3 separate regions of the Homo sapiens genome follow, and regions 2 and 3 are each linked to region 1. Evidence: fine-mapped expression QTL. A gene starts in region 1. Each other region holds a variant in brackets. All regions are shown on one strand. Distances are between the middles of the regions.

Evidence for each region.
Region 2: its variant is fine-mapped to the expression of SHISA2 in whole blood (TOPMed, PIP 0.96).
Region 3: its variant is fine-mapped to the expression of SHISA2 in spinal cord (GTEx, PIP 0.96).

Annotation. Positions count from the first base shown.
Region 1 is chr13:26,048,022-26,056,200 of GRCh38, reverse strand. SHISA2 (shisa family member 2) reads left to right here and starts at 4,185. Exons shown (of 2, transcript NM_001007538.2): 1 at 4,185-5,559. The coding sequence starts at 5,226. It overlaps LINC00415 (long intergenic non-protein coding RNA 415), which reads left to right. Exons shown (of 2, transcript NR_146971.1): 2 at 3,529-3,925.
Region 2 is chr13:25,969,778-25,977,956 of GRCh38, reverse strand. All of the region lies in intron 35 of ATP8A2 (ATPase phospholipid transporting 8A2), which reads right to left. It overlaps LOC105370122 (a long non-coding RNA gene), which reads left to right and starts at 453. Exons shown (of 3, transcript XR_941764.3): 1 at 453-521; 2 at 1,340-1,410; 3 at 2,208-2,377. RefSeq lists enhancers at 159-1,102, 2,466-3,004, 3,005-3,544. The variant T/C (reference allele first, on the strand shown) is at 3,644.
Region 3 is chr13:26,008,389-26,016,567 of GRCh38, reverse strand. ATP8A2 (ATPase phospholipid transporting 8A2) reads right to left here. Exons shown (of 37, transcript NM_016529.6): 36 at 3,946-4,037. Among named protein-coding and RNA genes, the nearest start is that of SHISA2, 40 kb to the left of the region's middle. RefSeq lists enhancers at 3,707-4,207, 4,208-4,708. The variant T/G (reference allele first, on the strand shown) is at 3,918.

The DNA of each region.
Region 1 (8,179 bases):
AACACATGTTGCATATCCATTCATTAGTTAGCAGATATTTTAGTTGTTTCCACTCTTTGGCTATTGTAAGTGTGCTGCTATGAACATTTATATAGAAGTTTTTGTATCTACATATGTTTTCATCTCTTTGGGGTTACCTAGGAGTGGACCTGCAGGGTCATATGGTTATTCTATGTCTGACTTTTTGAGGAACTGTCAAGCTGTTTTGCACAGTGGCTGAACCATTCTACATTCCCATCAATGACAGCATTCAAGGGATCTGATTTCCCCACAACCTTACCAACATTATTTCCCATTATCATTATCATTACTATTATTGTCAACCTAGTGAAAGTCAAGTGGTATCTTGTGCTTTTGATTTGCATTTCTCTAACGTCTAATGATGTTGAAGGTGTTTTCATGTGCTTGTTGGCCTTTTGTAGATCTTATTTGGAGAAATGTTTATTCAAGCCAGTTTTTTGGTTGGGTTGTCTTTTTGTTCTGGGTTGTAAGAGTTCTCTTATATTCTGGATATTAGACTCTTTTCGTATATATGATTTGCAAGTCTTCGCACATTTTGCTTTTGTTTATGCCATTCTTTTAGATAGGAAGGCATTAGTGAAATAAGCCCTCCGTGAAACTCCATATCTCCAAAATGGAAATATATCCATAGTAAACATCAAAATCAAAATTAAAGGGGGTTCAGTAAAACAATGGAGTAAGGAGGGGGGATGAGAGAGAACTATGTCAATAGTTTATAATGACAAATGAGAAGAAATATAATTGAAAATATGGAAATTACTTTTCTGGAAGTCAGTATGTCAATTACAATAAAAATAAGGAGGGTGAAAAATTAAAACTTTTAAAGCAAGAACAATTTTTTTTCATAAATTTATGAACATTTTTGAACATAAGTTTAGGTAAACAGAAGACAAAATTAAAATAAATGTAAATTAATATATTTGTTTGGGTTTTCACAAAAACACTCTAACTTAAAAGAACTTTTGGTAAACCAAATGCCAATTTTCAGTACTATTTCTATTTATGAGAGAAGAGGAGAAAAAAAAATGAATGAACCCAGTGAAAGCCATTCTCCCTAAACAGACTGCTGATGGATGTGCAGATGGTAAGAACCTTCTGCTCTTGCTGAAACTTGCAGAAAAACACTGTAGATCTTGCAGCTTTTAGAACTGCCAGCCAAATGAAATATTATTACCTCCATCTGATTTGTATCAACTCCAGTTAGTAAAGTTGTAAGTAATCATTTCTTTAGTTATATGACTTGCTATTTGTACTAGTGAAGATATGTCAGAAGTTTGCTTTTAAATCAATTGGATTTTATTCATATATATATTTATATATATATGCACAGGCACATACTGAAAGGCAAAATAACTTGAAAATATACTTTTTCAGTTAGTGACTATAGAATTCAACTTTTTTAAAAAGAGGGCTGCACTCTTTCATATGTTTTTCAATATATTTTGGCAGACTGCCTAACATTTCATTTTGATTATCATAAATTATGATTACTACTACCTATATGTTGTAATTACTAGTTATAGCTTCTCAGAAGAAACGAGTGAAATAGTTTTGGTTGTCTGTTAAGACCAATGAGGGAATTTCTTTTTATTTCCTATGGAAGGAACAAGCCTATTTTAATATCTCCCAGTGGCACCTCCCATGCAGAACCTCACTAAATACTTGGCAAGTTATTTTATAAAATTTCAGTTCAACATTCCAGATACACAAAGAAACGATAATACAAGAGAGACAAAGTGACATAAAGGACCTTTCAGCATTGAAGACAGTCAACCACTACGTAAAGTAACTATGAAAGGGCCTCTCCTTAACTTTTAAGGAAGAAAAGAAACACAGTAATTAAAAAAAAAAAAAAAGACGAATTTGCTCAGAGCGCCATACTTCTAAGTTCACCAATTATAGATTAAATTGTAGACTATTTGGCAAAAACATTGTGTTTTAAAGGTGGCACTATCCAGTCACCAAATCAATTCCAATATGAAATGTTAAACAATTTTTTTTCTTCATAAATAAACTCTGACAAATTGTGGATGTTTTGGTGAGTAGGATAAGTGGATCCTGGAAGGAGGTTATAGGCATAGGTACTGTCTGAAATAATACAATTCTAAATAGAACAATAAGTACAATTCTCTCGCATTAATTGTTTTTCCAAATGGCAAAATTGAAAGTATTCACCCTCTGAACACTACCCAAATCAACTCGTGCTGCCATAGGAGCATCTCATGATCTGTACAGGACTCCCAGTTAATCAATCCTGGGCTTTCTGTAGTGGCGGCTGTGGTGATCAGCAGTGCGGTGAGTGGGGTTTGGAGTCAGGAAGAATTGGGTGCAGTCCAGGCAAACCGACGCTCTCTATCTTTAGGGATTGAGCAAGTATCCTCACCAGTAAAATGAGGATAGTAATACTGTCTTATTTATAGGGCTGATGTGAGGATTAAATGAAACCATGCACATGAAATTCTTAGCGTGGTGCCTAGCCCATAGTAAGCTCTCAATAAATGTTGGCTAATGGTGTCTTCTAAGAAAATGACTCATTCTGAAAAACTCAATCTTCCCTTGGCTTCTTCTGGTCTCTTTTTAAGTGTTACTCCTTTGATGATTTTTCTGACCTCCTTCCCCACCCTAACCTAGATTATGTGCTTAAATTGATGCTGTTCTCATTGTGGGTAAGAGCTTTGATCATACTTGCATTCTCTTTGCTTATTCAGTTCTTTGTCTTTTTGTCTGATTTCTGTATTTTACCCTGGAGACTTTAGGCCCTATTTGAAGGAAATGGCCATGCTGTCTGGCTTCTTGATGAGTCCCAGTACCCAGCACAGAGCACAGTACACTGTAAGTGCATGGCGTGTATTTCTTGAATGAATGATTTCTTGACATTGAAATTTTTTTTAGCTTACTAGCTTAAGACATTTGGTGAATAGTGCATTTAAAGTATATAATTTTGTGTAGCTTAAAACGATACACAACCAAAAAACTGCAAGAAAACAAAGTGCAATGCTTGGAGAGAGGTTTAGTGAAAAGAATAAGGTGTGTGTTGGGGAGCAGGGACATAGGGTAGGGTTTTTTTTCTTGGATTTGACATTGTTGGGGCAAGTGGAAGAATAATCAACAATGTCTGAATCTTCACATTAACCAGGCATACACAAGCATCCAATGGCTGCTTGAACCTGAGTGTCTTTGCTGTGAATAAAACTGCCTGTGTTCTGAAGTCATGGACTTGAAAGGGACCTTAGTGATCGTCACATCCTATGCTCCACTTTATAGATGAAGAAACTGAGACCAGAAAAACGCAGTGATTCCCTGCTAGTAGGGCTGGGTCTAGAATTCAGGTCTGCTGACTCCCAGACGGTGTGGGAAGGGGCATTCGTTCCTTTAAAAATAAGCACTGCTGCTTTAATAACATCAGCACCTGTTGTTCCAGCTTCTGCAAGAGAGAAGCTATTAATTTCTCCTTCATCAAAGCTGAATTTCTGGTCTGTCTGAACCTTGTTTTCTTCCTGACTGCAGCTGTCTAAACCACTAAGGCCACATGTTGGACGGAGGCACTTTCCTGCTGGAATCCGATAAATCACCACACCCAAATATAGAAAGAAAAAGGGACACAGATCATCCACACCGTGGCCGAATGTGTGACATCTTTGCTGAACTCTCTCCGTTCCACCTTGTGGTGGAGGCCTCCAGTCCACCAAACACAGCCCTAGGCGTGTGAACCCTGCCACAAACATCGGTGCTCTTCCTGCACAGGGCCTGGGACCAACCGTGGCCAGGACATCAGCTGCTGGAAGCCGAGAGAGTTCATCTGAGTGGCGATTTTATGATCTGCAGAGTGGAAAGTAATCATAATCCCTTGAGAAGTTTGCAGAATCGAACCGAATGTTGAATGCCAAAGATCTTCACAAAGCAAGTTGAGTTTCTTCCGTTATTATTGTTATTTGTGTTAGCGAGGCCTGGATTGCTTAGGTTGGGTTTCCTCCCGCGCCTATTCCAGCAGGCAGACCCCGCCCTTGGCCACACCTTTCTCCTTGCCCGGGGTAGGAAAGTGAGGGGCTGCCCGGCGCCCGCGGGCGTCCCTGAGGTCGGGGGTGGGGGGGAGCCGCGCAGCGCGCATGCGCGCCGGGGAGCCGCCGGCCTCTATAAGAGCGCGGCTCAGCGCGGCAGCGAGCGGAGTCGGAGCTGGTCTGGCGCCGGGCGGGGCGAGGCGAGGCTGTGGGCGGCTGCTGCGCTCGGCTTCTCCCGTAGCCCGGAGGAAAGAAACTTCCGTGGGAGGCTTCCATCGGTGCGCACACCTCCCGAGGGCGAGGCAGCGACCGGGAGAGGGAGAGCCGGCCGGAGGCTGCCGGGCTCCTGTGGGACCGCGCTGCAGCCGGGGAGGCGGAGAAGGGGAACCGGGGCGAGCCGCCCGCCTGGATCCGCGCCCAGCAGCAGCCGCGGCCGCCGCCAGCTGGGCAGGCTCCCGGGACTGCGGCTGGGGGCGCGCAGGACCCTCGCCTGCGTCCTGGACGTTCCCGGGGTCAGGAGCGCTCCCTCGGCGACGTGCTGGGAAGATTGGCCGTCGGCCCCGCCGAGTGGAGCGTCGGGGCTGCACCCCCGTGGGCTGCCCGGGCGGCCCGGCCGGAGCCATGCGGACCAAGTTCGGGGCAGAGGAGGCTGAGCGCGGCCGGCTGCGTCACTTGCTGCCCAGAGCCTTGCGTGCACTGCCCGCCTTCGCCCCTTCTACCCGCCCGAGGAGGGAATAAAGGAGGGGAGACGGGCCCTGATTCGCGCGCGGGACCCTGAGGCTTAAACCCTGCGCAGAGCCCTGGCTCCAGGTCCGCGGCGGCGCGCCCAGCGGTCATTCGGCTCGAGTGAGCATCCCTTCGGGGATGCTCAGGGAGGGTCCGGTTGCCAGTGAAACCTCCAGAGGCTTCCGGACGACAGCCCCGGGGGCCTTCTGACTGCATCCCGAGATTTCCATCAGCGAGTGCAACTCATAAGGCAGTCCCTAAGGGGACCGGGCCACCGGCTGAGGACGGGGATGGCTTAGGAGCTCCTGGACCTAGGGCCCGGCGTCGTCGCCTCCTGGGCGTCGCGGCAGAGGGGAGTGGCCCGCGCGGAAAGCGCCGCGGGACAGTCAGTGACGAGGCCCGGGGGTCGCCGGGGCCACGACTTCTCGGAGACCGTCCTGCGCTCTCTGGAGACGCGCTGTCCGCGCCCAGGGTGGTGCCATGTGGGGCGCTCGCCGCTCGTCCGTCTCCTCATCCTGGAACGCCGCTTCGCTCCTGCAGCTGCTGCTGGCTGCGCTGCTGGCGGCGGGGGCGAGGGCCAGCGGCGAGTACTGCCACGGCTGGCTGGACGCGCAGGGCGTCTGGCGCATCGGCTTCCAGTGTCCCGAGCGCTTCGACGGCGGCGACGCCACCATCTGCTGCGGCAGCTGCGCGTTGCGCTACTGCTGCTCCAGCGCCGAGGCGCGCCTGGACCAGGGCGGCTGCGACAATGACCGCCAGCAGGGCGCTGGCGAGCCTGGCCGGGCGGACAAAGACGGCCCCGACGGCTCGGCAGGTAGGGCGGCCTGCGCCCAGCGCGAAAGGGAGGACGGTTGGCGTTGCCTGGACGTCAGGGACCTGGGAGTTTGAAGGGGGGAAATTCAGGAAAGGGCCTAGGACCAGGAGGCGGAGTCTGCCTTCTGGCTTATTATTTGGTCGGTGTGGGTCCCTAATTCACCCTCACGGGCCTCAGTTTCTCCATCTGTCAGCCAAAGGGTGGCTTAGAGTTAATTTTCCGAACAAAATCACACTCCTAAGGCAGTGTGGGCCACAGACAGCCCCCATATTCCTTCTGACCAGGGTCCTCCGGGCCCCTCTGGCGTCTCCTGTCTCCATAGGGCTTCATGTCTTAGGGGTACCCAAGGAGACGGCGAGGGTGCGCCCCCACCCGTGAGGGCCTGGCAGCGGTGCTCCCCTGAAGGCTCCCCGAAAGGAAGGCAGCTCCTCAGGGCTTTCCCGGGGCTGCTGCCCCGTGCCAGACGCCGCGGATTCCCATCTTCTCCACGCGGCGGCCCCTCTCCCCTGCAGCGGCCCGCCTGTGGGGCTTCTGGACTGTTTTCCTTACCACGTCAGACTTAGTAGGTGTAACATCGGAGCAGTGCCCAGCCTTGCTCTTTGTGGCTTTGATTTTTTTTTTCTTTCAAATTGCCAAAGCCAGAGTTGGAAAGTAAACCCGTGAAAGAATTTGGTAGGTTGCACTTCACTCTTCAGAAACCTTCCGGAATGCCTCCCTGGGGTGTCTACACCAGTCACTCCGTGTGTGTGTGTGTGTGTGTGTGTGTGTGTGTGTGTGTTATTTATTTCGGGGGAGGGGAGGTGTAGAGGTAAAATGGCAAACGTGTCCCCGAGGGGGCGGCTCCTCCTCTTTGTGGGCCCGTTGTGTTTACCTGGGAGGCTTTTCGCTAGCATCCTGAGCCTGGGTTCGGGCTGCTTGAGCTTTGGCACAGCGTAGTTTGTGTTTATAGAGCTGCCTCCCAGGACCTCGTGAGAGACAGCTCTTTTCAGTGCCGTTCCCTTTCGCAGTCAAGCATTTTATTAGCATGCTACTCCTATTGTTCTGCTGTCTTGAATCTGAAGAGAGCGTAATTCCAGAACCAGCGCAGTCTTAAAACGCAAGCTCAGTCTCGCAGACTGTGTGGCCATGGAAGAAAGCCCAGAGAAGGGAGCCAGACCCCGAACTGCTACAGTGAGATGTCTGCTAGATTGGGCTCATTAATGGTCTCCAAAAAGTTGGGATGGCTTTGGATTAGTCGGGACTTCTCAGGACGAGACTTCTCATGACGCCCTGTGTTGTGCATGGATGCCTTCTTCATGCTACTTTTAAACGTTTTTTTCCTAAAAATTGTATTTCTTTCACTTTTCTTCTGCAGTGAAGGGCAACATGCCTAATTAAGCCTGCCGGGGGGCTTATAGTAGCGTTACATTCCTTATCCCTGTGTAGTTATTTACATTTCCAATTAAAAATCCTGGAAAGAGAACACTTATTTCTCCCCAAAACTCATTATGTGGACTGAGGCTGGTTTCAGCTAGTTTCTGCTATGATTGGGGTACATTTTTTTTCCTGCTTTACTACTATTAATTTATTTTTTGATAACATATTTAGGGCTGGTGTCTTAATTTAGAGAATGAAATATTTATAACACGCCAAGGAAAAAGCCTGCATCCACTTCTCCAGTGATCCGTAGTTAGCCTGAAGTGATAGTGTAATTAGGACAGTTCTACTGCTGGGCGCCAGCTGTGCTGCAGACACTGTAGCAAATGTTTCTACCTGCTAAAGGGGCGCTATATATAGAAATTGCTCTGTTCAGCATTGAAACTCCAGGAAATATTCCACAGTCAGCCTTTGGTTAAATACCTATAAAGTATTGTTTTACTTACAGGGCATTATTTCTCCATAATTCCACCTGGTATTATACTTTAAAAACACTGACTCCAGCAATACCAGAACAGTGAAAAGGAGCATAATTAGAAAGCCCGGCTGCTCTAATGGATGATGAAAGGGTATTCATAGAGCTGACCTCAAAGGCGTGGTCTCCTTCCTAAAATGCTGCCCCATCCGACTCTGGGCTGGCATTATGCTTTGCCAAGACCAGTAAGACCCAATCCACCCCTGTGCTTATGTATTTCCCAAAAATATAGCCAGGAGGTTGGGGCAAGAACACATCAGAAAATGCAGGCTCTTGGTAACATAGGGTAGAATTCCACAAAAGTGGCTCAGAGGCATTCTGCAGGCACCTCCCATCTGATTCTGTCCCTGTCAACCTGCGTCTATTTTCTAAAGCCTTGTAGTGCCCTCTCTATGGCTCCTAAAAGATTTTTTTAAGAAACTAATTTTATGTATTTATTTATTTATTTGAGATGGAATCTCAATCTGTTGCCCAGGCTGGAGTACAGTGGCACAATCTCGGCTTACTGCAACTTCTGCCTCCTGGGTTCAAGCGATTCTCCTGCCTCAGCCTCCAGAGTAGCTGGGATTATAGGTGCGCGTCACCACACTCAGCTAAATTTTGTGGTTTTAGTAGAGACAGGGTCTCACCATGTTGGCCAGGCTGGTCTTGAAGTCCTGAGCTCAGGTGATCCACCCACCTTGGCCTCCCAAAGTGCTTGGATTACAGGCGTGAGCCACCGTGCCCCGC
Region 2 (8,179 bases), 78 kb after region 1:
GTACTCAAGTCATCCTGGAAATACAGCCTGAGGCCGTGTTACTAGCAAACCGCTAACACTGATGGTCTCTCCACACTTACCTCCCTCCATCAAGAGGACACTTCTTCCCATTTTCTCTCCAGGCATTTTCTAAAGATGCTGCACTTCTTCATCGCAGCACTGGGCAAGTAGCTAAGCTCCTGATTAGATTTCTGATACAGCCACAGCACCGTTTTAAAGGTGAACAAGATGCTTAATAATAAATGACATCTGGTATTTAATTTAAAAATTTTCTAATTATTAAACATCGGTCCATAAGAACAATAACAACAACAACAACAACAACAGGCTCTTGGAATTCAACATTCCTAAAATAACAGAGAATCAATTATTTTTAGTTGACACAGGCAGCTTAGGCATTAACTAAATGCTAATGAGGTGTTTCACTTCCTGAAGAGTTTATTTTCCTCCTCCTCTCCTTCCTGTGCCCAGGATGCAAACAGTCACCAGAAGCCCGGCTGGGTCATGCGGGCAGCCTTTCGGTAATTTCCTGCCACATTCACTCCCTTTGTTCCACTAATGCATTTCCTCACCTGTCGCGAGTATTTGTCAGCAAGGCGAGAGCTTTAACTGGCCTTGCCTGGGAGCGTCGTTGGCTCTCCAGCTGTTCTCCTAAGAACTCTCCCCATTGTCTCAACTAAAATGTTTGCCGGCATTAGGCTTTGCCCAAGGTTCTTTGCTCTACAAGATTAAACGCATTCAATTAATTTTTTCATAGACCATACTAGGCTCCACGAAGGTGACTGTGGGTGGAAATTGGCTTCTTTAGCAAGGCTTCTCTTTCCTGAGCCATATCAAAATGTGAGCTGCGGCTGGGCACGGTGGTTCATGCCTGTAATCCTAGCACTTTAGGAGGCCGAGGGCAGGGAAGGGGGGTGGGGGTGGGGGTGGATCACAAGGTCAGGAGTTCAAGACCAGCCTGGCCAAGATGGTGAAACCCCGTCTCTACTAAAAATACAAAAATTAGCTGGGCATGGTGGCGGGTGCCTGTAATCCCAGCTACTCAGGAGGCTGAGGCAGAGAATTGCTTGAACCTGGGAGGCAGAGGTTGCAGCGAGCTGAGGTCGCACCACTGCACTCCAGCCTGGGCGATAGAGCAAGATTCTGTCTCAAAAAACAAACAAACAAACAAACAAAATGAGCCGCTTTCACACACTCTTTTCCCTTTATTTGCTCTGAATTTGTCCGCTGGTTTGGCTTCAGCATTTCTTGGGGGGAGGGTATGATTTCTCTGCTTGGTCCAAGTTCTTCCTACATGTAGGGATCTAAAAGACAACAACATGCAACTACAATTCTCTAGCTTCCTTGGATTTTGCACGCAGCTTCACCAGACAGCAGACTGTGACCCTTTTCATCAGACCATGCTAGAAGGTAAGCACCCCTCCTGGTCTCTCTGGGGGCTCCGTGGCTTTCCAGTCTCTCTAATAAAGATGTAATTGCAAATGCAAGCATTTGGGTGGCTCTCCACATCTTGGCTTGGTGGAAAGAGGCCTGAAGTAAGAAGATGCAGGTTTGCCTCTCTTTAGTTGGGTGACACTGAGCAGACGTGACTCCATCTCTCTGAGGCCTCATCGCCTTTTCTGCACATGAGGAAACTTTCATTTGCTGCATGTGGGGATCAGTGTTATGATAAAAAAATAAAGTGGAGCATAATGAATAAGTCCATGGCATTAAAAACCAGGAAGACAGGTCTCAGCATGGCGGCACATCCCTGTAATCCCAGCTACTTGGGAGGCTGAGGCAGGAAGATGGAGTGAGCCCAGAAGTCAAGCCCAGCTTGGGCAACATAATGGGACTCTGTATCTTAAAAACAAAACAAAACAAAACAAAAAAACAAGAGAAAGTTCTCCAGATTCAGAGGAACTTGAGGAACACAGAAACCAAATGCTATGTGTGAACCTTGCCCAGATCCTAACACAAATCAATCAATCCTAAAAGGCAGGGCTGAGGCATCCAGAGAGTCTTTTTATGGACGGGTTGTTTGACTGATACCAAGGAATTATTATTAACTTGTTAGATGTGATCATGGGGACTGGAGTTCTACATTTAATAACATAAACAAGCATGCTGTGTATCACAGATGTTATAAAGTCTCGTGGAATATTTAGAGATGCCTCCTAAAGCATAGGTGGACTGTCGTGATGCCTGGGATTTGCTTTATGTTTCAGGAAAGAAAGACTCTGAGCAGAAGGGGTGAGATGAAGCAGTTCTGGCCGAATCTTGATAATGATTGGACCTGGGCAATGATTTCATAAGAGCTTATTGTGCTCATCTCCCTACTACTATGTATGCTTGAATATTTGAATAATGAAAATAAAACTTCTTTTTTTTTTTTCGAGATGGAGTCTCACTCTGTCCCCCAGGCTGGAGTGCAGTGGCGCGATCTCGGCTCACCGCAAGCTCCGCCTCTCGGGTTCACGCCATTCTCCTGCCTCAGCCTCCTGAGTAGCTGGGACTACAGGTGCCCGCCACCACACCCGGCTAATTTTTTTTTTTGTATTTTTAGTAGAGACGGGATTTCACTGTGTTAGCCAGGATGGATGGTCTCCATCTCCTGACCTCGTGACCTGCCCGCCTTGGCCTCCCAAAGTGCTGGGATTACAGGCGTGAGCCACCGCAACCGGTCGAAAATAAAACTTTTAAAATGAGTGTTTTAAGGGAAGCTCAGGCTGCCATCAGCACAGCAGGGAAGTTGGTGACATCAGAGAGTGTGTCCTGAGGTGGACGGCATTTGTTCCCAGGACAAGGCCTGTCCTGCTGCCCCTGAGTAGCCCACGTGTGGCCCAGTGCTTGGGACACAGTGCAACACCATCGTATAAAACCAGTCAATCAAGAAGAGCCAAGGGTAGCACCAACCACAGAAGGGCACAGCGTGGGGAGGACAGGGGAGGTGGAAGCTGAGGGTCGCACACGTGAGAAGAGAAGCAGAGGCGGAAATCACTGTGGTTCTGGTCTGCACTGGCTCAGCAGGTGGTGGGCTGAGGGCAGAAGGTGGCATGATGAGGCTGTGCTTCACAAAGGATGTCTTCAGCTGTGGGATGGTGGGTGAAGAGGGACAGGCACCACCCCAAGGGACCAGGGGGGATGACTGTGCAGATGCTGGGAAGACGCCGAGACCTGGCACCCAGGGATGCGCAGGACATGAGGGGACAGTGTGGACACTGAGAGCGAGTCTGCAGTGTGGGAAAAATTCATCCCGATGGAGCAGGAGACTCCGAAGGAAGGGCTGGTTCTGGGGAGGAGTGGCAAGGACCGGCATAGACGTTACAGACAGACTGCAGCTCAGATGGACAGGGGTAAGCTGGCGAGAGATCCTGGGGCAGAAGGGACAGCCTGGACTGGGTACACTGTCCTCTTCACAAAGAGGAGCTCCTTGAAGCTGTAATCCAAAGGCTGTCTTGAGGAGACCACCAAGATTCAGAACTCACTACAGTCCCCACCACACCCCCATCCAACATTCACTACGGCCATTCGTCCACACCACTCCCATGTCCCTGGGATTCTGTTAGATTTCTCCCTTTTACCTCAGACTAGGGGGCACACCCCGACGATGCAACTCGGAGAGCCTGCTGCATTCACATCTTCCCCAGGCTTACATGTTAGA[T/C]GGTAAACACGGCCAGTGAAATGTACTTGTTATGCAGCTTTTCAGTTAGGGGACGCTTCCTGAACATCTACATAGGCTATAGATTTAATCTGCATTATTTATTTAAACCTCAAAGCGAATGTATGATGAGAAAACTGAAGTTCAGAGAAGTTAATAACCCAGCCAAGGCCACACAGCTAAGCTAGAGCCCAGCTCAGGTCATCTGTCTCCGCCGTCTGCACTCGCTTCTCTGCTTCATGACAGAGCTGAGGAAAAAAAATGCAGCTGGAAGGAAAATAAATCTCAACCAGGTGCTGGAAGCAGACATTTGCCACCTGGCCTGGAGAGGTTTGCTGAAAGGATGCCCTAATTTCCTATCCTTTTGGCTGGAAAAAAAGCCAATAATAGGTATTTTAGGAGGAAAGTGTGGGAGAGGTGGGACAAAAGCAAAAGGGAGATGCACCACATGTGCACTGCCAACGGCCAGTACTGTGAAAAAACCGATTTCCTGAAGTGACGCAGTCATTGTTGGAGTCCGGTGCAAAAGGCCTGCATCCCTCCTGCCTCAGGCTGGCTCAGCGACATGCTCAGCCTGGCAGTGGGACTGATTTTGACTTAGAGGTGTGATGATACTAAACAGTTTTTTCAACACTGTTTTAAAGATCAAAGGATTTCCGTTAAAGATCAAAGCATGACAGGTATTTTTGAGTTGAGTACTCACTCAGAATGCATTCGGGAGTTTGTGTTGTTTCATTTTTTTAATACGACTGGTTTTCAAAGGAGCACTCGAGAGCACTGCCTGGAGTGGAGGAACAATCTTTGGTTTGTCTGAAATCTTGCTGCTGTGGTTCAGGCTCTGTTCCTATTTTTCGGCAGAGAGAGCTCCATTAGGATCCCAGGCCACCTGTCCAAGGCTGTGACCAGGGCCCTGCCTGTTTAGAGGCAGCCTGGATGAAATGGAAGCCGCAGAGCAAGAGTCAGGTTTCCCTCCTGAATTCCCTGGCGGTGATGGGCCGTCCAGATTACCCCGGGTCACAGGGCCACGCACAGATGTTCACAGAACACAAAACCGAAGGGAGACGAGGCGACGGCTCGCCAGAAGGTTTAAGACCAGCCACACAGCTACCTTCACCAAAGTCACAGCGTAAGCTACACCCAGGGAAAGCACTTAAGGGGAAGATAATCCACTGCCTTCCTGGCAAAGGCAGGGGCAGCAACCGGGTCTGTTTACCCTTGACAATGGAGAATATCAGCCCTGGGCTCACCCCACCCCACCCCACTCCCACCAACTGGGATGAACAGAGTGAAAGGTGATCTAGAAATAGAACAAGCTCTCCTTGTTTATTCAGGCTATGCATAACTCAAAAACTAGATGTTTTCAACAAATATATTCCCCCTTTTTTTTCTTGCTTGCCATTGTACCTAAAATATTACAGGGCAACCACTTATCTCATTCCAAAAAAAATTAAGGAACAAAAGTCTGTCATCTTACACGCCGTCATCGGTTTATATTGTATCTGTAAAAGTGAGTGGCCACAGATAGATTTTCTTTCACCAGGAAAGAAATTTGCATGGCTTACACTTCAGGAATAAAGAAAGGAAAGATATTACCAAGACATTAAAAAACAAAGAATTTTCTTCCATTTAGCTCCTCATTGTTTAGACACTCAAAATAACGACATGCAGGGTAGACTATTTCATGTGCGGTGCGGGGGGGTTCCTGCTTCCCCAGGTAGGGATTACTGGGAAGACAGTTTGGGAAAAGGTATTCTGATCAACCCCAACAGTCACACGTGTCCAGTGTCTATAAGGCGCACAAACACCACATCGTGAAAAACACTCCTTCAAGAAGAACAAACTAAAATCAAGACAAACATTTTATTCACTCCCTAAAGCACTTTCTTCACTGTGCTTTCTGGATATCTAATTCCCTGATCTCACCCTTTCTCATTATCTGCTTCTTCATGAGAACAGGCTTATTAAAGTATCAATTCCACAGGTTGATTTTGGAAGACAAGATCTACTAATGAGAAAGTGCAGAAGCATGTTCATGAAAATTTAACTTTATCAAAATAGTATAAAAGTATGAGGCTTAGACAAGTTCAATAAAATGTTGGATGAAAATATTTTATTGAATGAATAAAAGGCACAGAGAGAAACTTAGAATCCCTGGCTACCATTTCAAAATTGTAATTGTAAATTTGGTACAAGAGGGTTTTCTAAAAAGATTAATGCATACAGATTTTTTTTGTTCTACTTCCTGTGGTTACATTCCTAAGAAAAACTGCTAGAATATTTGCCAGTGACTTGGACCTGGGTTTTATGACCTGGCAGAATGTCCTTTAAGGGGCCCTAAGCAATGCTGTCAGGACTGAGCTGAGTAAGCCCCTGGGGTTAGGGATGCTGAGGACCCCTGGGGGTGCCCTGGCTTGGCTGGCACAGGAAGGCAGGAGAGGGAGTGGGTTTCAGGGAGGATGGGCTCCTGGCCTGTGCATCTTTGCAAGGGTAAGATTTGCTAATCTTACATCACAGATGCCTCTCCATGTGTGAGTCTATGTTAGCTGTACTCTCAAGCAATGAGATAAACTGCCCCCTCCCTGGAGGCCCGGTGACTGTCAGCATCTCTCTGTGGCCACTTTGTGCACATCCGACACACGAGCTGACACACAGGCACCAGTGTGTCAGCTCATCTGGCACTGAAGTCACCGTCCTTTCCTCACTACCACCTCACTAGACTTTGGTATTGCCAGTCAGTCAGCCAGCAAATATTGACAGAGTTTCCTGTGCGGTTAACAGCTAGAGAGATACACAAATCAGCTGAAAGATCAGATGAGGGTAGGAAAGAAGGAACAGGGAGGGGTGAGAAGAGACAAAAACACTCAGGACCCCTCAAAGAGGTGGGGGTCTATAAGATCTTTAGAAGGGAGGACAGAGCTGAAGACAGACTTCTTAGTCTCTACCCTCCACCCCTCAGGAATCTAAGCAGGTGTGAAAGAAGAAAACAAAGGTTGTAAGAGAACAATTGTGAGGCAGCTTAGGAGGCCAAGCAGGACAGCATAGACTCTGTGCAGAGAGCAGCACGCCACCATTATCCAGTTTGCAGATGGACCACCCAGAAAATCTGTGAGTAATTAGGAGTGAGAAAAACAAATGGGAGGGGGTCACTGAGGAGGATGAGCGGCAGAGCCCCCAAACTGTGTTCTGGCTAGGAATTCCAAAGTGAAGCAAGATGCTGGGACTAGAAGAAAAGGAAAATGGTGCAACCAAACGGGAGTATGCAGGCCCACCCGTGCATGTGTGCGCGCACACGTGCACAGAAACACACACACACACCCCATCATATGAACTACAAAGTGAAATTTACAAGGAACCAGAAAATAAGACTTTCAAATGTAGACGGTAGGAAACCGCATTTAAGCTCTTATTTTCTGATATCCATTTGAACATTTAAAAATGAATTTTGAACAGGATAAGTGAATTTTAAAAATAACATTCATTTATCAACAACAAGCAAAAATGGGCTCACACACTCTTTCAAGGCTGACAGCCCACGACTTCCTTCAATACAATTCAAGGCCGACAGCTCATGACTCTCCTGCCAAAGTGAAGATGAGCAGCTGACCTTTTACACACCTGAGATGGGTCAGGCAATATGCTGCGTTGTACATATTTCACGAACCTTAATCCCCCAAAGAAAATATTAGCCTTCTTCTATGACAGATGAAGAGACAATCTGATCATATGAAATATCCTGCACAAGGCCTCACCGGTAGGTAGCAAAGCCAGAATTCAAACGCAGGTTCTGTATCTCTGCAAAATGCATGTGGCCCTCCAAACTGGGTGGTTGGTCCCTGCACACAGTGTTGGACCTGAGCCTTGGCATGTGCCACTCCCTCTGCCCAAATCAGACTCTCAGCAGTTCTGTCCATTCAAGACCCTCCCATCCTCAAAAGCCTGTTGTTCATCCATCTCCAACATGAAGCCTTTCTTGATTGCTCAAGCCAGATGACCCCTCCCCACATCAGAACAAACACTCTAAAGCACATTCTCACACCACATTATATGTGATGTCGTCCTGTAAAATGTTTGAGAGGAGTTTGAGAGTTTTGCTCTGAAATTCTCATTTTACTTAGAAATTACTTATGCCCCCTCAGCAATCATTGTGTATACTTGATATATAAGGGAGCCTGTAAGTTGTTTCTAAGTATAATAAACTTATTGTCCTTACTAAACTTAACGGTTAAGAGTGATATGCATTTTATAGGGTTTTAAACATTTATTAATTTCATTATGCAATGTTTCCTGCTCCCTAATTTTTGGAGCTTATGAATATGTTTTTTTTCAGGTCTCAAAGAGCACGGTAGGTCCCTGAAACTCTAACAGGTCCTGAGCCTTATGCCTCAGCTGTCTGATGGATAGAACAGCCCTGAACAAGCCTCAACCACGCGTAGTGGTTATATGTACATCTGCGGTAAAATCAGCCCCCATCCCCATGTATTCACAAACTTAAGCTTATGGAAGACAGTGCTTTTTGTCTTGTTGACTGATGATTTTTTA
Region 3 (8,179 bases), 40 kb after region 1:
CAAATGGAAGGTGCAAAAGCCTTTTCTTTTATTTATCTTGTTTTCCATAACATGCCTGTGTCTACTGGAAACCCAACTCCGGGGGTTTCTTCAGCTCATAACTCTGTCACTTCTTCTGTGTGCATTAGTGCCATGGCCACAAGGGCCTCCCATGGGATTGCAGCGGGATGATTTGGCCCCTCTGGGATGGGAAGGGTTTCGAGGTTTCCCTTTGAAGAGACAGGCAGAGAAGAGTTGCCCCTCCTGTTGTAAACCTCCCAGGGTAAGTAGAGCAACGTGAGGTCTGTGCTAAATGTCTCCCACCATCCTCCCTAGTTCCCATTGGCTGCACCTACCACCACATTTCCAGCGTGTTGTACGCTAAGACTTTCTTAACCTTAACCGAGAATGAAAGTGGACTCTACAATTCAAGAGTGAAAGGAGAATGGCCTGATAGGTTTATCTTGGGAGAGGGAGTCCTCCCATGTTCAGATAAAATTTCAGATTAAACATTTTCCTCTTAGAAACCAGGCCTGGCGGGAGTTAGAGCTGTCATGGGAGGAGTTTTACTGGAAAACCAGACACCATCACCCCTCAACCAGTCCTGCCTGCCCAGCCTCTGTCCCACCGGATGAAGATACAGACCTGCTCCCCAGCTCTGCCTAATGAACCTTTAACTGTCATTTGCATCCAAACGGGGAGCTCGGAGGAAGCCTCCAGCTCTTTGCACTCCCTACTTTCACTCATGTTTCAGGAAGTCCTAACAGCCAGAAAAGTCCTGATGGGGGCCTGGAGGGAGCTCTCATGGACCCAACTAACTGAACTTTCCCTGGCTGGCTTCCTAAAGCATCTGCTTTCTTAAACAGCCACAGCCAGAATGGAGAACAGAATCGTGTAGGTGAAAGGAGGTGGGAGGAAAGACGGATTTCTTAGTTGTTTTGTCTTCTCCGGGTAGAACATTTGGTGAAATCCATAAAATTATGTCTTTTTTTTTCATTATTTTGGAATAAAACTCCCCTTAAGTAGCATTCCTTTGAATCTGTGCTCTGATAGCATCTTAATGAAAATAGCAGTTTCCTGTCTGGAAAGATTCCTAATAGCCATAGAAATGAGAAGACCATGGGGACAAAGAGGAAATCAGACTGTGTAGGAAATGCTGATTACAAATATTGTATGTTGGTGGCTCACAGGAACTAAAATACTACCAAGATTAGAGTTTTTCCTGCTAGTTTCCTGGACAGACCCAGGCGGAACATCAAAGGCTGAGACCTGCTATATGCCCATCCTGCACCCCAGGACCAGCTCTGACCACCCGACGATCTTCTCTGGCTGTTAGTGACAGAAACGTCCTAAGTTATCCATCAGGTTCTGGTACTAGTCACTGAATGTTTAAAAAATGTGGTGTGATTTCAGAAGCCTTCTTATTTCTTATATTTATTCAGTAGATTTTTTTTTGGCCTTCAAAATATTGACTTAAGAAAAGCATTTAGTAGTTGTCTTTAAGACATTTATGACTCTCCCATAAAAATTCTCATTCGGTCTTTGATCACAACATATATATCGTGTATATTCTGTCTATGGTTATTTTGAAACATTCATCAGAGAGGCAACACGGCTCAACAGAACAGACCCTGTAGAGTTCTGGGAACCTGTATGTGTTTTCTCTGTGTCTGGCATACAGAAGGTGCTTTACACATGCTGTCATGAAGACTCACAGGACTGTGTAAGATGTATATCATTAAAATTCTTTTTTCTCCACAGGAGAAAATAAAAATTTAGAGAAATTAAGTTTCCCAAAATTATTCAGCTAATGGCAGAATAATAATACCCAACATTTATTGGACCCTATATTGCCTATATAGACACTTTATCTTTATGATCTCATTTAATCCTCCTAATTGAAACCAACCCAATAGTCCCATAGACAGTTTTGTTTTTGTTTTTTTGTTTTTTTAACATAGAAATGACCCTTCTGGTCTTAAAGCTTGACATTTGTATTTGTTTTATCTGAGTTCCTTCCTTAGGTAGGGACCCACAGGCCTCTCGAAAAGTAGCAAAGATCTGAAACTCACCCAATGATCTCATCCAGACAACGAGATGCTAAGCCCCTCATTCATCTTGATTGCTTCCTTACCCCTACTGATTCCTGTTTTCTTACACATTGTTAACATTTCTTCCCTGCTATATAAACCCCTAATTTTAGTCAGTCAAGGATATGGATTTAAGACTAATCTGCCACCTCCTTGGCTATAGCACCAGATAAAGCCTTCTTCCTTGGCTATAATTGTTGTTTCAGTGATTGGCTTTCTGTGCAGCTGTGGGTGGCAGGACCTACACTGAACCTCTGGCATCCAGTAAGTTCTCATATTACCCAACTTTACAGATGCAGAAGCAGACATTAAGTAACATGCCCAAGGTCACGAAAAAGCAGGGGAGCAGGGACAGGAACCCAGGCAGCCCATCTCCAGAGGGCTGCCCTACAGTTAGCACTCCTGTCCCATCAAACTTCTTGACTTACCTCTCTTTTGGGCCAGAGTCTGAGGCTGCAATCCAGACCTCATGGCATGCCACTGAGCAATGCTGGGCCACCCACTTTCTGACCTGAGCCTCTGCTTTGTGTCCTTGGGGTGGCATTACCCACCTCCCAGGGCAGTGGAGCATTAAAGGACAGAAGCATGTCAGTCCCCTTCTTCCCATACGATATTCCACATGGGAAAGTGAGGACAGGGGGTAGATTACTGAAAAGCAATGATACTCTGTCTCCCTCCTTCTCTCTCCATTGAGAAAGTCTGCAAATACCTGTTGACAGGCAGAGCTCAACAGAACACAGATCCTTCACTGCCTGTACTGTGTGAACAATGATTCTTCACGTTCATAAATCTGTCTCTTTCTTTCTTTCTTTTTTTTTTTTTTTGAGACCAAGTTTCGCTCTTGTTGCCCAGGCTGGAGTGCAATGGCATGACCTCGGCTCGCTGCAACCTCCGCTTCCTAGGTTCAAGTGATTCTCCTGCCTCAGCCTCCCAAGTAGCTGGGATTACAGGCATGTGCCGTCACGCCCAGCTAATTTTGTATTTTTAGTAGAGACGAGGTTTCACCATGTCGGTCAGGCTGGTCTCCAACCCCTGACCTCAAGTGATCCACTCACCTCAGCCTCCGAAAGTTCTAGGATTACAGGCGTGAGCCACCGCGTCCGGCCCAACTCATCTCTTTCTACCAGTCGTTTCCCTCTAAACTCCTCCGGAAGGGAAAGGGAGGCAGGGAGTAAGTATGGGAGGAAAAGCTGGCGTGTGCACGTGATGGGGGTGGAGAGGGGGCTGGGGAAGGCCGCAGGACACAGAGAGGCAGGGCTGGGTTGGCCTTGGCCCTGGGGAAGGTGGCCTGGATCTGCCTCAGCTGGGATCTGATGACTGGATTGCTAAAAACAAGCCCATGAGCTCCCCCTGAGCTCCAAAGTCGGGGGCAGTGGAGAGGGGATGTTTCACAGCCTCCCACTCTCCTCTGGAATCTGGAGGTGGGGGCGGGGGTGGCAGGGGGACGCCAGGCTTAGACGTGGGGCAGCCTTCCTGGGAGAAGCATGATGTTTTTCCCCAATGATGGTCATTGTTTCAATCAATATGGCAACACTACACAAAACAGTTCATATTGCTATCTTTAGGGGCAACAGTTTAAAAGTCATACTGCTTCAACCTTAAAAAACTCCTCTTGGGAGGCTGACGGAAGGATCATAACCACACCAGGATTTTAAGTTTACGGATTTTGTGGTCCCAGGGAATTGCCTACACTCAAGCTGCACGTTCCTGGGGCCAAATACACATTTTGCAGTTCCACTTCCAAACGCACGCCCCGCCCCCACCCCCCGTCAGCACTCACCCGGCCCCCCATCAGCGCCCGCTCCCCCAACTCCTCATCAACCCCCGCCCCGCACCGACACCCACTCC[T/G]CCATCAGCCCCCGCCCGCGGTACTCACGCGGGACGCCCTGCTGCAGGGAGCTGCCCCGGAACAGCGTCGGGGGCGTCTTCCGGCCCAGCCTCTTGATCAGGCGGTCGCGCTCGTTCAGCCTGCGGATAAAGCAAGCGCGTCAGTCTCTTGTCACCTGAACACTCGGGTTGCACAAGGAGACAGACAGAAGGGGGTGGGATGAGGTGGGGGATCACCTCCCCACGTCGGGTAAGGCGTGGTGCTTCACCAGCGGCCCGTGATTTCCAGCAGATGCCATCTGGGCGCCTCAATGCTGGCTCCCTGTTGTGGAAAACGCCGTTTCCAGTCCCTCCCTTAGCCAGCGCTTCCTGCTCGCTGAAGTGTGCATGTGCCCGGTCCATACCCGCGGGACCGTGGGCTTTTCAGGACACTTCTCCAAGGAGAGGCCTGTTTCCGGGTAAACATCTCCGCGCCTCACTCCTGCCTGCAGCCCCCTGCCTGCACGGGGTGAGAGCCCCGCGGAGGCCTCAGGACCCCAGCCACAGCCCAGCTTCGTTCTGCAGAACTTGATTATTTTGAACCCCAATGAACATCAAGGCGAGTTTTCTTCTAAAACAGACGGCTAAGGAGCAGTCCCTGCCTTTCCTGAACCTATTCCCTTCAAGGTTGCCACTGCTGTGAAGACATGTGGAACTGTTCTGGAGCTTGGCTATTTCTATACTATTTTATTTTTTTAAAAAGATGGGGTCTCACTGTCGTCCAGACTGGAGTGCAGTGGCACAATCATAGCTCACTGCAGCCTCGAACTCCTGGGCTCAAGCAACTCTCCCACCTCAGCCTCCTGAGTAGCTGGGACCCCAGGTGTGCATCACCACACCTGGCTAATTTTAAACATTTTTTGCAGAGACAGGGCCTTGCTTTGCTGCCCAAGCTGGTCTCAAACTCCTGGCTTCAAGTGATCCTCCTGCCTCGGCCTCCCAAAGTGCTAGGATTACAGGTGTGAGCCACCATGCCCAGTCTGTTTATTTCTATAAGCCCAAAGGGACTGCTTGAAAACTGCCCAGGCAGGTCAAAGTGCTTTGATTTTTACTATCAGGCTCTCATTTCGCTTGTCATTACAGGAGTTTGCCAGTGACCTAGAGGCATAATAGATTATGGGCTGAATGGTGTCCCCTCTAAATTCACATGTTGAAGTCTTTACCCCTAGTACCTCAGAATGGGACTGTATTTGGAAACAGGGCCTTTAAAGTGGTAATTAAGGTGAAATGAGGTCATCAGGGTGGGCCCTAATCCAGCATGGCTGCTGTCCTAATAAGAAGAGGAGATGAGGACACAGGCATACACGGAGGGAAGACCACAGAGCACACAGCCACCTGTAAGCCAAGGAGAGTGCTCGCATGAGAAACCAATCTGTAAGTAGCTCGAGTATGGACTTCCAGCCTCCAGACTGTGACAAACTCAATTTCTGCTGTTTAAGCCACACAGCCTATGGCACTTTATTGCGGCAGCCCAGGCAGACAAATACAGACCCCCCTTACGTTTGTGGGAACGTGAGGGGATACGGAGTTGTAGAAGAAGCTGCAGGTGCTTGAATCCCATGTACCCTGCCCCCGATCGATCAGTGAGCCTGGAGCCTGAGGAGGCCCCTCCCATGACTGCAGACCCACCTAGCTCCCTCAGGGCCATCGAAAGAGGAGTGGGGCCCTGGCTCTTCTTCACAGTTCTTTGAGCTGAAGTTCATTTTGAATTTCCAGGAGAGGGCATTTCTGAGTGCCTTGGTTGAAATAACAATGTTTAATTCATTCCCAATTAAGGGTGAGCCTCAGCTAGCTAAGCTTGGCAAAACGTCTCATGGCTGAGGAAGAAAAATACTTTCTCCATCCTTTCACACTGGTCCTCCCTCCCGTCTCCTCTTTCTTCCATGGGCCAAATTAATCTCACCGGGTCTGGCTGAGCAATTGCCCTGGAAGGCATGGTTGTGCAAACACAGGAGGAGTGAGCCCGTGGCACCTGTCCCTCTGTGTAGCTGCCATCACCGACTGTCCACAGCTCCCTGTGCTGCCTGGTTTCAGAATGTGGCAGGTATAAAGAAGGGCCTGTCCTCCCTGTCCAACACGTGCCCAGCACTGGCCATGACTCCTGCACAAAATAAAGGGCACTGTGTGCAGAGGGGGCCCCTCACCCTGCCTGGCCCCAGGGTAGCCTCACCAGCCAGGCCCCACATGGGGACATAATGGGCAACTGACACATTATTTTCTCAGAAGCTGGAGACCATGCAGGACTAGGCTCTGCCCCCATGCCCCTGGACCACAGGGACATGCCTCCTGAACCACCCTGGCCATCCCAGAAGCTCCTCCTCATGATGGGGCTTATGAGAATGTCACAGATCCTCAGAAATGGGAGGGATCATTGAAATTATACATGTTGGCCTCTCACCAGGCAGGTGAGAAAACAGACTCAGCTGTGTCAAATAACTTGACAAAGGTCAGATGGGGCTTTGCTGGCAGGGCTCCTGTGCTGGCAGACGCCGCCTAGATGCCGCCTAGAGTGGTGAATGCTTTTCTCTGTCTTCTTTTTTTATAATTAATTTTTTTCTTTTTGTTTTTGAGACAGAGTCTTGCTTGTTGCCCAGGCTGGAGTGCAGTGGCGCAATCTCGGCTCACTGCAGCCTCTGCCTACTAGGTTCAAGCGATTCTCCTGCCTCAGCCTCCTGAGTAGCTGGGATTACAGGCACTTGCCACCAGGCCTGGCTAATTTTTGTATTTTTAGTAGCGATGGGGTTTTGCCATGTTGGCCAGACTGGTCTTGAACTCCTGACCTCAGGTGATCCGCCCACTTCAGCCTCCGAAAGTGCTGGCATTACAGGCATGAGCCACTGTGCTCAGCCTATAATGAGATATTATTTAAAAATGTGACTTCTTGCTTCAGAGGGACCCACTCTGTGCCGCAGCCCTTCCTCCACACACTGTGAGGGGTCCACAGCCAAGGAGGTACACCCTCCCATGGCCCAGGCCTGCCATCCACCACCTCAGTTATTTGGGACCCTAGAAGTCCCTGCTCAATGACCACCCAGGCCTCCATCCAAGGCTAACTTGACTCCATCCTGAGCTCCATCCCCCTAAAAGTAGACCATATAGCCAATGTGCACACCCCAGGTCTGTGGGGGTGGCCAAGGGGTGCTTTTTGCATGGGGATGTGAACAGAACCTGGATGTGTGGGCTGGGATGTTCACCACACCACACGTGCGCAGATGCCCTCAGTGCAGGGCAGAGCTGGGGTTCTGAAGCATGGAGAGGGTGTCCAGGGAGTGAGCTCTTTCCCACGCTGCCTTACTCTGGCTAAGGCCTTCAAATAAGCCAGGAATCAGGAAGCGCACCAGGCTTTATGAAGGTGTCATCATGAAGGGACAGAATTCTTTGCTAGCTTGATTTGTAACTTTCACATATTTATGTGTGGTTCAAGGTCTCCACTGGTACTCTTATACCAAGTCCTGCAAATGTCAGGACCAGGCCTAACTATGATTACTTCAGATTTTAATAAAATAATAAAGTCTTAAATATAAATTCCTTATACTCGCCATTCTTCTCCCTTCCATAAAAAAGAAACAGCTTTCCAGTCTATATTTCATACTGTTGCTTCATAGATATGTATGGGTAATTAATATCCAATTATATTTAAAAATACGCATAAATGGTGTCATTTATTTTATGCTTCCTGTTTATCATGTTTTTTGCTTTTATTTTTTGGTTTAGAGGAATACTTTATTATTTATTTCAGTGGTCACCCTTACATTTCTAGCCTTCATATTTGACAAGGTCAAAAGTTAGAAAATAATTTAACCCCCTTCTTCAATAATGCAAACACTTCAGAACACACAACTCTGATTTTTCCATCTCTTCTTGTCTTCAGCACTGAAGGCTACTCAGTTTGCCATTTTTTGCAGGGAATCTGTCTTTTCCTTCTGGTTGCTTTTACAATAATTCCCTTTGTCTTTGATGGGCTGTAGTTTCATGACAATATTTAGTATGACTGGTTATAGGTTTGTTTTTATATCCTGTTCAGCTGCTCAGGTCTGGAAAGCTACAACAGCTTGAATGTTTGTGGATCTTCACTTACAGAAAACACTGAGATTCCTGCCTCCCCTCCGTTCTCTATTTTACCTTCTCCTGGAGCTTCTATCTACAGTATCTCCATATTGATCTCATTCTATCTTCCACATCCCTCAATCTCTCCCATGTTTTTCATTCCCCTTCTCCCTTCAGCTTTATCTAAACTACTTTAA